Linked DNA regions of Homo sapiens: region 1 is linked to region 2. Evidence: fine-mapped expression QTL. A gene starts in region 2. The other region holds a variant in brackets. All regions are shown on one strand. Distances are between the middles of the regions.

Region 1 (5,372 bases), 32 kb after region 2:
AGTGCTAAAGAAAACATAAAGCAAGAAAGGGGGATATGAAGTATTGGCAAGGGTATGTGCAAGCATGTGTGTTTATAGGTTGAAAATTACAGAGTGGCCAGGAAAGTCTGCCCTGAGAAATCCTAAATAAAATGAGGAAACTAGCCATGATGATCTGAGGAAGACAAGCACTCCAGATGGGGGTAGGACCAAGTGCAAAGTCCCCGGGGAAGGAGTGTGCCTGAGGTCTTCAAGGAACAGCCGAGATGCCAAGCTGACTGGAGCAGAGAGTGCACAGGGAAAGAAGTAGATGAGGTTGCAAAGGCCTCTTAGATTACAAAGAACCTTACAGATCAAAGAGGCACCTTAACTTTTACTCCGAGTGATATGGGAAATCACTGGTGGGCTTTGAGCAGAGAAGTATTAATGTAATGCTTTAAGTTTAACAGAATCACTTTGGCTCATGTGTTGTGGAGGAGAGTGGGACAAGACAGATGCATGGAGACCTGTCAAGGGGCTATGATAAAAATCTGGGGAGAGACGATGGTGGTTTAGGTCAGAATGGTATCAGTGGAGATGGGCAGAGAGATCGATTCTGGATACCTTGAGAAGGTACAACCAATATAATTTGGTGATGGACGAGATATGGGGTGAGAGAGAACAAGGGCAGGCACAGAAAGCAGCAAGGTATTGACATTTTTTCCAAAATGAAAAATAGAGTTGCCCTTAACTGAGATGAGGTGGGCTACAGGATGCAGCACTTGGGTGGGAGTGTATGGAGTTTCAGGAGCTCAGTTTTGGACATTTAAGTTTGAGATGGTGGTTAGAAATCCAAGTGGAGATAGCCAGTAGGCAGCTGGATCTACAGGTCTGGGGTTTCAGGAAAATGTCAGAACTAGAATGTTAAATTTGGGAATTGTCAGCATACAGAGATAAACCCACCAAGAGAATGGGCAGCAGAGAGAAGAACTCCAAGTACAGAGCCCTGAGTCATGCCAGCATGTAGAGGCTGGGGAAGTGGACAGAACCAGCAAAAGAGACTGAGGTGCAGTGTCAGGAGGGGGAAGGGAGAATCCAAGAGAGTGTGGTATTCCAGAAGCCAGGGAAGAAATCCAAGAGGAGGAAGTGATGGGGGCTGCCAGTGATGCTGGTAGATCAATTAACACTGGAACAGGAATTAAAAGAAATTAAAGAGTGTGTAAGCTGATTCCTTAAAAATCCTGCAACAACACAAGGACCAAGAACTGGCCTTTCGATTTAGCAACAGAGATCACTGGTATAGTTTCATCTCCACAGTGGTCGGTGGTGTACCAAGGGGGTTGGAGTGGTGGGAGTAGTCTGCCCATACTCTGACAATAAAGAGGTATATTTTCTGTAGATCATTGAAAAACAATAATAAAACCAACTCCATGTTGGCAGTTTGGGGCCTGAACAGATTCTTAAACTGGGTCCTGGGGAGATTTAAAGGGGAGAAATATGAGTTAGCAAAGATATTTAACTCTTTCAAGGAATTTTGTTGTAAAAAGAAGAGGAGAAATGGGAGAGGAAAGTGAGGTGGAGAGGTTTTACTTAGTTATTTGTGTTTAAGATGGAAAAACATAGCAGCATGTTTTGTATGCTGATGGAAATGATCTAGTAGAGAAGAAGATTTGATGCTGCCACAGAAAAAGGGAGAACTGCCAGGGCAACAATCCTGAACCGGTGCAGGACAGGACTTAGCGAGGAGACAGCCAGTTCACCCCAGTAGGAGGAGGGAAGGCAGTGACTAGGGCCACAGATGCTGGCATGTGGGTAGATATGGCAGCAGGGTGTTGTAGAATTTATCTTTCGATTTCTTTTCTTAGGAGAAATAGGAAACAAAGGTATGAAAGGTGGGGGAAGAAGTGTTGGAGGCTTAAGGAGAGGAGAAAGTATGGAATTGTCTTCTAGGAGAAATGGGGTAGTGGGAGGACTAGAGATACATGGCTCATTTAACAAGGTCCTCATCACTTAAAGGGAAACCAGCCAGGCTGGAAGTGCAGGCACAGTTGATTGTGAAATGTATGCTCAGAAAGGATGGAAAAAAAGACCACGGGGAAAGGTGCGGGATTGATAGATCACAGGTCAGCCAGGAGTGAATGGCTAGAGGAGTCAAGAAACTTAAAGGGCTGGGTGTGGTGGCTCACACCTGTAATCCCAGCACTTTGGGAGGCCGAGGCGGGTGGATCATCTGAGGTCAGGAGTTCAAGACCAGCCTGGCCAACATGGTGAAACCCCGTCTCTACTCAAAATACAAAAATTAGCTGGGTGTGGTGGTGGGCACCTGTAATCCCAGCTACTCAGGAGGCTGAGGCAGGAAAACTGCTTCAACCCAGGAGGCGGAGGTTTCATTGAGCCGAGATCGCACCACCACACTCCAGCCTAGGTGACAGAGCAAGACTCCATCAAAAAAACAAACAAACAAACAAAAAAACAACTCAAGGAAGTGAAAAGACAGGTAGGAGATGGAGAGAATGAGAGGT[C/T]TGAAGCTAAGACTGCTTTTTATGTGTATGTTCATTTTGGAAGAAGTTGTGGTTCTAGACAGACCATCAAGCCTAACACCAATGCACCTTCTGATGTAAAGAAAAATTAAGCAATTTCATCCAGATTTAATGTAATAATAGTATATGTTGTTGTAGATCTGTGAAAATATGTAATTTATGCATGGCTTATGAAAGAGAGAAAACTTTGGAGAGGGCAGGACAAAGTAGTCTGGTAGTGGAATACCCTGGTGTCTATGAATAAAAGAGAACTTTCTAGAGCCTCATACATTGTTCACATAACTCATTCATACAGCACTGCCCTGCTTCCTCAAAGGTCCAGCACTGCCCACAATACCTAGAGTTAAATCTACGTCTTTAGCCAGGCCAACAGGGCTCCGAGACAGCCAGTGCCTCTCTCTCTGTGCCCTCATCCACAGACCTTCTTCTCTGGCCTCCACACAGCATGACTTGCCCTGCCCCCATGCCTTTGTGCTTGCTGTTCCTTCATCCTACGTTGCTCTTCCTCCAGGTTTTCTCAGGCCTGATTCCCACATGACCCCTCTGCCTGCTGAGGCCTGCCCTGACCACCTTTTCTGAAATTTCTAAAACTGGTTGCTGATGCATCACCTCCCTTGGTTCCTCAGTAGCACTTACAGTTGGAAAGTATCCTGCCCTTTATTTATGTGCTGTTGTCCTACTTTCCCCAGAAGACTGGGAGCAGGGGAGGGACAGGTATTATGTGTGGCTTTGAGACAGAAGAGGGACAGGACTTGGTACCCCCCATACCCCACCAAGGACCTCACTGCAAACTGGTAGAGGGGAGGCCCCATGGGTGGCAGGGACCCCAACCAGCCCCTCCAGACCTTGCAACATAAACCTTGCTCAAGGAGCCATACCTGCTGACTGCCGGACCCTGAGGAAGCTAAAAGCAGCAGCTCCCACCATAAATCTTACTATCTCCCACATGCACGCAAGGCCAGGAGAATGACTGATCCTTAACTTTAGCTTCATTATAATACTAAAAATCACACCCAGGGGTGGAGATGTAACATGCTTATAAGACAAGCGATGCATGAAGAAGCATGTCATCAAACTGTGGAGGTGCTAAAAGTTCCCTGCCTCTACATTCCTAGACATCACTCCTTTCTCACCGCGGCCCCTTTACAACTTCCTTTTCAACACCCTCTGGGGAGCCAGCCAGAAAATTCTCTCTCTCTTGTGTTGCCTCCCATATTCCTGGGCATAAGCTCCAACAAAGCCTTGTCTGGGAAAACTATCTTGGCCTTATGACAATTTCTATTGCATTGAGAGCCCAACAACCCATGGTTGGTAACAGCTTAACTGCTGTAACACCTCTAGTTAGAACAATACCTATTAGGTGCTCAATAAATATTTCTTGAATGGATGGAGGAGCCCAGGAATATCTATTTTTAAAATATACTTACCAGCCAAGTGTAAGAAGTGAGGTGTCTGGTGTCCCCCCTGTGATTTTAAACCAAGGCTCTGATGGATTCTTGACTTGTCCACAGTCACACAGAAGAAAGTGGCAAAAGTAGAACTAGAGTTGTGACTCTGCCGCCATCATTCTTGCTTCTCCCTAGGTGCCCTAAGGTGCCCTAAATCATCTGGGTCTGCAGGAGAGTGCCCTAGAGAAGAGCAGGACTTGAGTCATTGGAGCCATTCAAAGTTTGCAGTAGTTCTGTTTCCTAGATTCTGGCTCCTTCCAAATGCAGCAGCCAGATGCTGGGATGATGGAAGAAGTGACAGGACAAGAAATGTACTGGCTTGGTGCAAAGATAAAGGTGGTGCACAGACATTACTTGCCTGAAAGCCCCACTGGAGCCGTAGTATCTCTCCTGGCTGTTGTAAGCCCATATGTGGGCAGGATTGCACCTGCCACCACACAGAGCACAGAGAGGGGAATCCGGATTAGACCCAGGGGCACAACTGCGACTGAAGAAATCATCTGCGAGAAAGGACAACCAGAGGTCAGGATCAGCCCTCCCTGCCTGTGTTAGCAAGAAAGCCTCAGATTCTGTCCCCAAAATTGCCTGATAAAGACACATTCAGTTATTTGTAACATATTATTAAAAGCAAGACTTTATGGAATTAAAAAAAAAAGGTTCCAGCTGGAGCTAAGTAAAGGGGAACTGACTCAAGTTGGATCAAGGGTCTGTGAGCTCACAGGGGTCTACTCCATCCCAGCACAGGGCAGTGGCATCGAAAGATGGACACAGAGTTTAACAGTGAGGGGACAAAAGAGAAGTCCTGGCTCGCAGAACCCGGAGCACATGTTTTCTGGGCTCTGCTGCCATTGCCCTTTTTCACAAGGTGTGCCATCACAGCTTCAAGTCCAGGAAGAGTCTAGAGAGGCACAGCTGCCAAGCCCTGTGCTGGGCTCCAGGGCACCACCATGAGGAAATCAGACACAGGCTCTGCCCTCTTGAAAACTTGCAGCCTGTAGGGCGATAGTCAGAACTCAAGTAACCACACCAGTAAATTCATGTTTCCCTCTTTGCTCTGGGAAAAAATTATAGGGTTCCATGAAGCTACAATAAAAGAGCCCCTTGCAGCCCTAGGGGTCAGGGAGAAGGTTTAAGCCGAGACATGAAGAGTGAGTAGGAGTTACCCAAGTGAAGAGTGGAGGGGAAGAGCCCTCCAGACAGGGGACCAGCATCTGCACAGGCCTGTGTTGGGGTGGGGTGGAGGCACGGCACAGAGAGCCTCATGGAGGCCTTCAGGACTAAACCACCAAGAAAATGACGGTGAGTGCAGTGGGGGGCAGGGTCCAGACCCTTTTACTGTCATTAGTTTTGTTCTTTATCGTTAGAGAGATGAGAAGTCTGTGAAGGGTTTTAGACAATGCTGGGCCAGGGGCAGTAAGCTGGATAT
Region 2 (5,372 bases):
GCATGCACCACCATGCCCAGCTAATTTTTATATTTTTTAGTAGAGATGGGGTTTCGCCATGTTGGCCAGGCTGGTCTCGAACTCCTGACCTCAGGTGATCCACCTGCCTCAGCCTCCCAAAGTGCTAGGATTTCAGGCATGAGCCACCGCGCCCAGCCTGATAGCAGGCATTCTTATATTTTCGCCAAGTTCAGAGAACCTAGGGTCTCAAAACAGTCACCCTTGCGTCTACTGTGTCTGGAAAGCAAAAGTTAATGTGCTTTTTGACTTTTGCTTTCCAGACACATTAAAGAAAACCTCCCCATTTCCACTTTTGAAGTGATTTTAGTAAGTCAAGGTTGACTGCCCCATATATCAGCCTCCTACCTGTGAGTAAAGAATTGTTCCAAAGTGACTGGAAACAGAGAAAGTATGGCTTTCTTCCACTCTCTTTTAGGCAGCAGCGACTTACCGCAATGGCCCTGATGCAATCAAGGTAGGAGGCTTTCTTCACACAAGCAACACTGGGACCATCGGATGGAATGACGCTTTTCATATGGTCGCGGAAACTCTGGCACTTAGTGGCCTCATGCTCCGACACTGCACACCATCTCACAGTTTTATCAGGGACAGCCAGACACAGCCCTGGGGGAGAGAGGCCAGAGGTGGAAGGGCCCACTCCCTATGCTGAGGGAGAGACAGCATCGCCCCTAGAAAGGCCTTGACAGCCACATCCCCTCAGTCCTGTCCTCCTCTCACTCCTGTCCATGAACACTACAGGGCACAAGTTCTACTGCATTCTGAGTCTGAGCCAATAGAAGGTTGCCCTAATGGCCTCCCAGTTTCCTACTGACCACCCTCTGCTGGCCAGAGGGGTGCAGGCATGGCCATCACCTCCCAGCTGGAGATGACAATCTGCTCCTCTGTATCCGCCTTGTCTCCTCCCATCACTGTCCTGGCCCCTGGCCCCCCATGGAACATAAGCCTCAGTATGCACAGGGCGTTTTCAGCTACCCCAACACATTGGCTTGCTACCTCAACTATGGAAAACCAGCGGGGGAGGAATTGCCATCTTTTTGAGAAGAGGGAGTGAGACTCAGAGAATGATGCCTTTTTTTTTTTTTAACCCAAGGTCACCCTGCTTGTCGTTGGCCAAGCCAGGCCTAGAATCTGGGTCTCCAGACTCTGGGTCTGCTACTCAGGGCACAAAAGAAGAAAACATTCTGAGTTACACCCCTTCTTGGCCAGTAGTTGAGGGTAAATTAACGAAAAGAATTAATTTGTCTGTAACTCTTGTCTGTTGCTCTCTGTTTAGGAAGAACTAAAAACTCCACAAATTCAACAGTCTCCCCTCTGTCTCCACTGAACTATCCCTCCATTTTCACCACACTTTTTGGCTGCCATTCACAAAAAAAGCTGAAGCCAGCCATGGGTAACTATTAAAATCCATGTGGTTGCAGAGACAGCATCCCTATCACATGAGCTTTTGCCCTGTCCCCAAGGCCCTCTGTCATCTCCACTCCTTGTGGGCCACCACAGCAAGGCTGACTCACTGGCTCTGAAGAAGATCCACAAAGCCTGTGGAGAGGAGGCCCACAGCTCTCCAGGATGCATGAGGAGGGGCCACCAGGGATGGCCACCCCAGCGACCCCCATTTTCCCTCTTGGCCCATGGGAAATCCTAGGAGGCAACATAAGCCTGTGGCAGCCCCTCCACAAAGCCCTGCCTCCAGAGTTCCCATAGGCGAGAATGTGTCCTCAGTGGAGCATTACCTTGCACAGCCTGTGAAGTGCTCTGTGCGGGGATAAAGGCAAGTAACGTGGGGTCCTCTCTCAAGGAATTGCTAGCTTATGGGGAGAGAAAACTAAACGTGGAAGCCCCAACAGTGTGACAAATGCCCCATGAATGGCAGGCAGAAGTTAGAGTATGAAGGGGGCCCCACCTCAGGAGGTCGGGGAGTGTGGCGTCAGCCACTGCCCCATAGCAGGATGTGTGCAACATCTGCCACTGGTACTCAGCATCTGCCACCTCGCTGACCCTCATTTGACCCTCCCAGGCAAGTGCTGTGATGACCCCCTCCCTGGTGAGGAGCCGGCCAGGACTTGGATCCAAGAAGTCTGGCTTCAAACCCCATGCTCTGACCGCTCGATGGCACCGCTTCCTTGGCAGGACATCTACAGCTCCCAGGGCACCCAGGGGACATCAGCCTCTGAAAGGGGAATGGTCAGACCCGGGAGGCCTTGAATGCCATGCTAAGGAGTTCGGACTTGACAAGAGGCAGCAGCAAAGGGTTTTGATAACCTGGTTAGACGTGCTCTGATTTATTGTATTTCACTGCTGCAAGATTTACTGGACAAAGAGGAGGAGGGGGAGAAGACAGTGAGTGCAGTGAAAGGTGTCTAGAAGCCCAAGCAAAGGCCAGGGGTGGGGCGTAGAGAGGCAATGGAAAGGCACCCAGACACCCAGGCTTCCAGCCTGAGCGCGGAGTGCATGCAGGCTGCGCGGTGGCCGCCCGGGTTGCAGGGAACGCGCGGGCCAGCGACTCTGCGGTGCTACCCCGTGCCCGCACTCACCCAGGACGGCGCAGACCAGCAGGGCTCCCACGGCGAGCCTCATCTTCCGGGTGCGGCGCTGAGCAGCGAGCACAGTCGGACTCGCTTCTGTGCAGCCTCCGGCGCCCCGCGTCCCTTTATTCCATTCCCGGCCTGGGCGGGCTGGGCGCAATCTTTGACCTCCCGTGTTTGTGCAGCCGGGTTGCCCAATCGCCCCTCTCCCAACCCCCCTTCCTTACTCGTCCCACTGATCACCTCATTTTCTGAGCTCTGGAGACGACCCGCGAGTGGAAGGAGTCCAGCACAGAAATGTTGATGGGAAGGGACATGAAGCACAATGCAGCCATTGTCATCGCGGCTCGCTCGGTGCCAGGAGCGGCTACGGCGGGCTGGGAGCCGGGGGGCTCTGCTCCTGACTCCAGGGCTGCAGAGCTGGTCCGTGCCACCAGTCCTATCTGCGCAGTCCACAGAGGAAGACTCCGAGGCTGGAGAGGGAAAAGAACTGCGCCCAGACCCCACACTAGAACTGCAGAATGACAGGCAAAGCCCCTTTTGGGGGAGGATGCAGGAGAAACAAGCTGGGCTCAAGGTCAAAGACAGACTCAGCACCTTTTGCTCCCCACCAGGTGTCCCTCGAAATCCTGCTCCTGGGCTCTCAAAGGTCCCCCACGGAGGAGCTGCTCCCTCTTCCTGCCCCGCTGAGCTCAGGCTCCTGGGCTGGAAAACTTCCCGCCCTCAAGCTTCCTGTGGGACACCTTAGACTAGGGACAGAGTCATAGGGGAAGATGAACTCCCTCCAACAAGAAGGTTCCAGGAACATGGTCAAGACACTGTGAGGCTCAGAACAAAGTGTCATCTTAGCACAAAGCAAGCGGCCCAGTGGACGGTGTGGCCTGTTCTTACAGCCTGGGGCCACCATGTCCCCCTCTAGTCGATGAGTCTCCTAACCAGTTTAATTACACATCCTTATCATGAAAAATATTGAACTTGTGCCTTCTATATGCTTATATTTTAACTAAAAAATGTGTACACTTCAATCATGCACAAGGAATAGAAATTTGTAAAAGGATGAGCTAAAGATGAAACTCATTTTCAAATGTCGTTTTGCTTATGCGGCCTTATACAGGATTATTATCTCAAGGCATAATATACTTGGGGAAAGGTCAAGATTCCTTCCACGAAGTGTAAATCCAGACTTCAGAGATTTTGCCAAAAGTTACTTCTTATCCAACCTGACCAGATGGTCATTCATTCTGTCTCATGTTTTAGTTGACCAAGCTCATATCAAGCCTAGTGGACACGTCAGGTCAGTCATTTGATTTTTGTTCACTTGTTTTTGTGTTGTCAGAATTGTCTCCTAATTCTAGTTTCTTTGTAAGAATCTTTTTAAGGCATGTGTGCATCTCGTGAAGGTTGGAGTTAAAGCCAGATTATCTAATCTGTACATCCGTTTAACTGGGCACATACAAACCACAAAGTATGGAAATAAAAATGCCAAAACAAAGGGCAGGGTCGGCACTCCCCTTTTCACCTTTAGCATTGTGAGGTGAACCCCATCTTCCCTTAGGACACCTGAAAGGCTCCATCTGTCATGACTGCAGACTCAGGTGGGAGATAGGGCCAATTCACACATTCAATATGAATGAATGATAATTTGTTAATCTTTTGCAATAACAATAAATATAACTGGAAGTTAGATTATGTTCTCCCACACTCCAAAAGATTATCTCATATGCAAAGGGGTTACATACCTCCCACTTTAGAGTCCACTACAGAAGCTTTCTGTTTACAGTGAGGACAGAAGTCAAGTCTGGCTTTCCCAACACATCAGCCTCACCAGCGAGGGAGAGTGACCACTGCTGCCCTGTCTTACTCCCCCCTTGCCCGTCCACGGGCCCCTTGTGCTTGAGCCATAGGGAAAGAAGACTGTTAGCATGAGGGCCATATTCCTACTGCCCCTGCAGCAGGCTCTAGGCAGTGGTCTGGATTCATTTGGAGACCTTGAGGTAAGGATGTGAGATGAGCAGGAAAAGTCAGGGGCAAGGCTAACTGGAAGGCACCCAGCAGAGCAGCATGCACACATACAGCTGATGCATGGACAGGCCCTGTAGTAAGCTTGCAGGGTCTGCCAGAGAGCAGGAAGTGCAGTTACGAAAGGTTGAGCCCATGCCACAAACTCAGGGAAGCTCAACGCAGGGCATGGAAAGAAGATGGTCAGTGATTCTCCTTTTCTGGAGCCCATCTACATTCGTAGACTAAGCCCCGCTGAGGCCAGTCCTCCAGCCACAGGCCCATAGCCTAGCCAGAGCCCCTCAGCAGGGAGCAACTACCTACTGGCCAGGCTGAGTCCTCTCCAGAGCAGCCAGCTCTATGCCCTGTCCTCAGAAGGGTCCTTTGAGTCCAAGCCCAAGACAGGTGCTGGGAAGGAAATATACAGCCTCATGGGATATGAAGGAAGCTCAGACAAGACATAGAGAACTGGTGCTCCCACGTCATCTACACACACCTAGATGGAGAGGCCAGGGCCTTGGCTTTTGCTCAAGAGGACAACAGCAGAGCTTCGTGCTTGCCATTCCTTGGATGGGGTAGGCAGGGGTGAGGCCAGCTTTGGGGTGTACATGTGTGCATGGCCCTAGCTGTATGGGGTGCCTATGCCTGTATATGTCTATAGGAGCATGTGAAGGTAAGAGGTTAACATTACAGCGCTCCATGTCCATGACACTTGTACCTGTGCTCTCATTTATATTCTTTAATTCTATACCAGAGATGTTCTGGAGTTGGAGAATCACTGTCCCTTTTAATAGCTTAATGATGGCTGAGATTTACTGGGAGCTTCACTGA

The links. PIP is the estimated chance that this variant, and not a neighbour inherited with it, causes the effect.
Region 1: its variant is the best candidate, but not a certain one, in a credible set for the expression of TF in sun-exposed skin (GTEx, PIP 0.54).

What each region holds. Positions count from the first base shown.
Region 1 is chr3:133,711,735-133,717,106 of GRCh38, reverse strand. It overlaps a transcript of TF not described here. Among named protein-coding and RNA genes, the nearest start is that of TF, 32 kb to the left of the region's middle. The variant C/T (reference allele first, on the strand shown) is at 2,481.
Region 2 is chr3:133,743,664-133,749,035 of GRCh38, reverse strand. It overlaps TF (transferrin), which reads right to left and starts at 2,643. Exons shown (of 17, transcript NM_001063.4): 1 at 2,553-2,643; 2 at 452-624. The coding sequence starts at 2,595.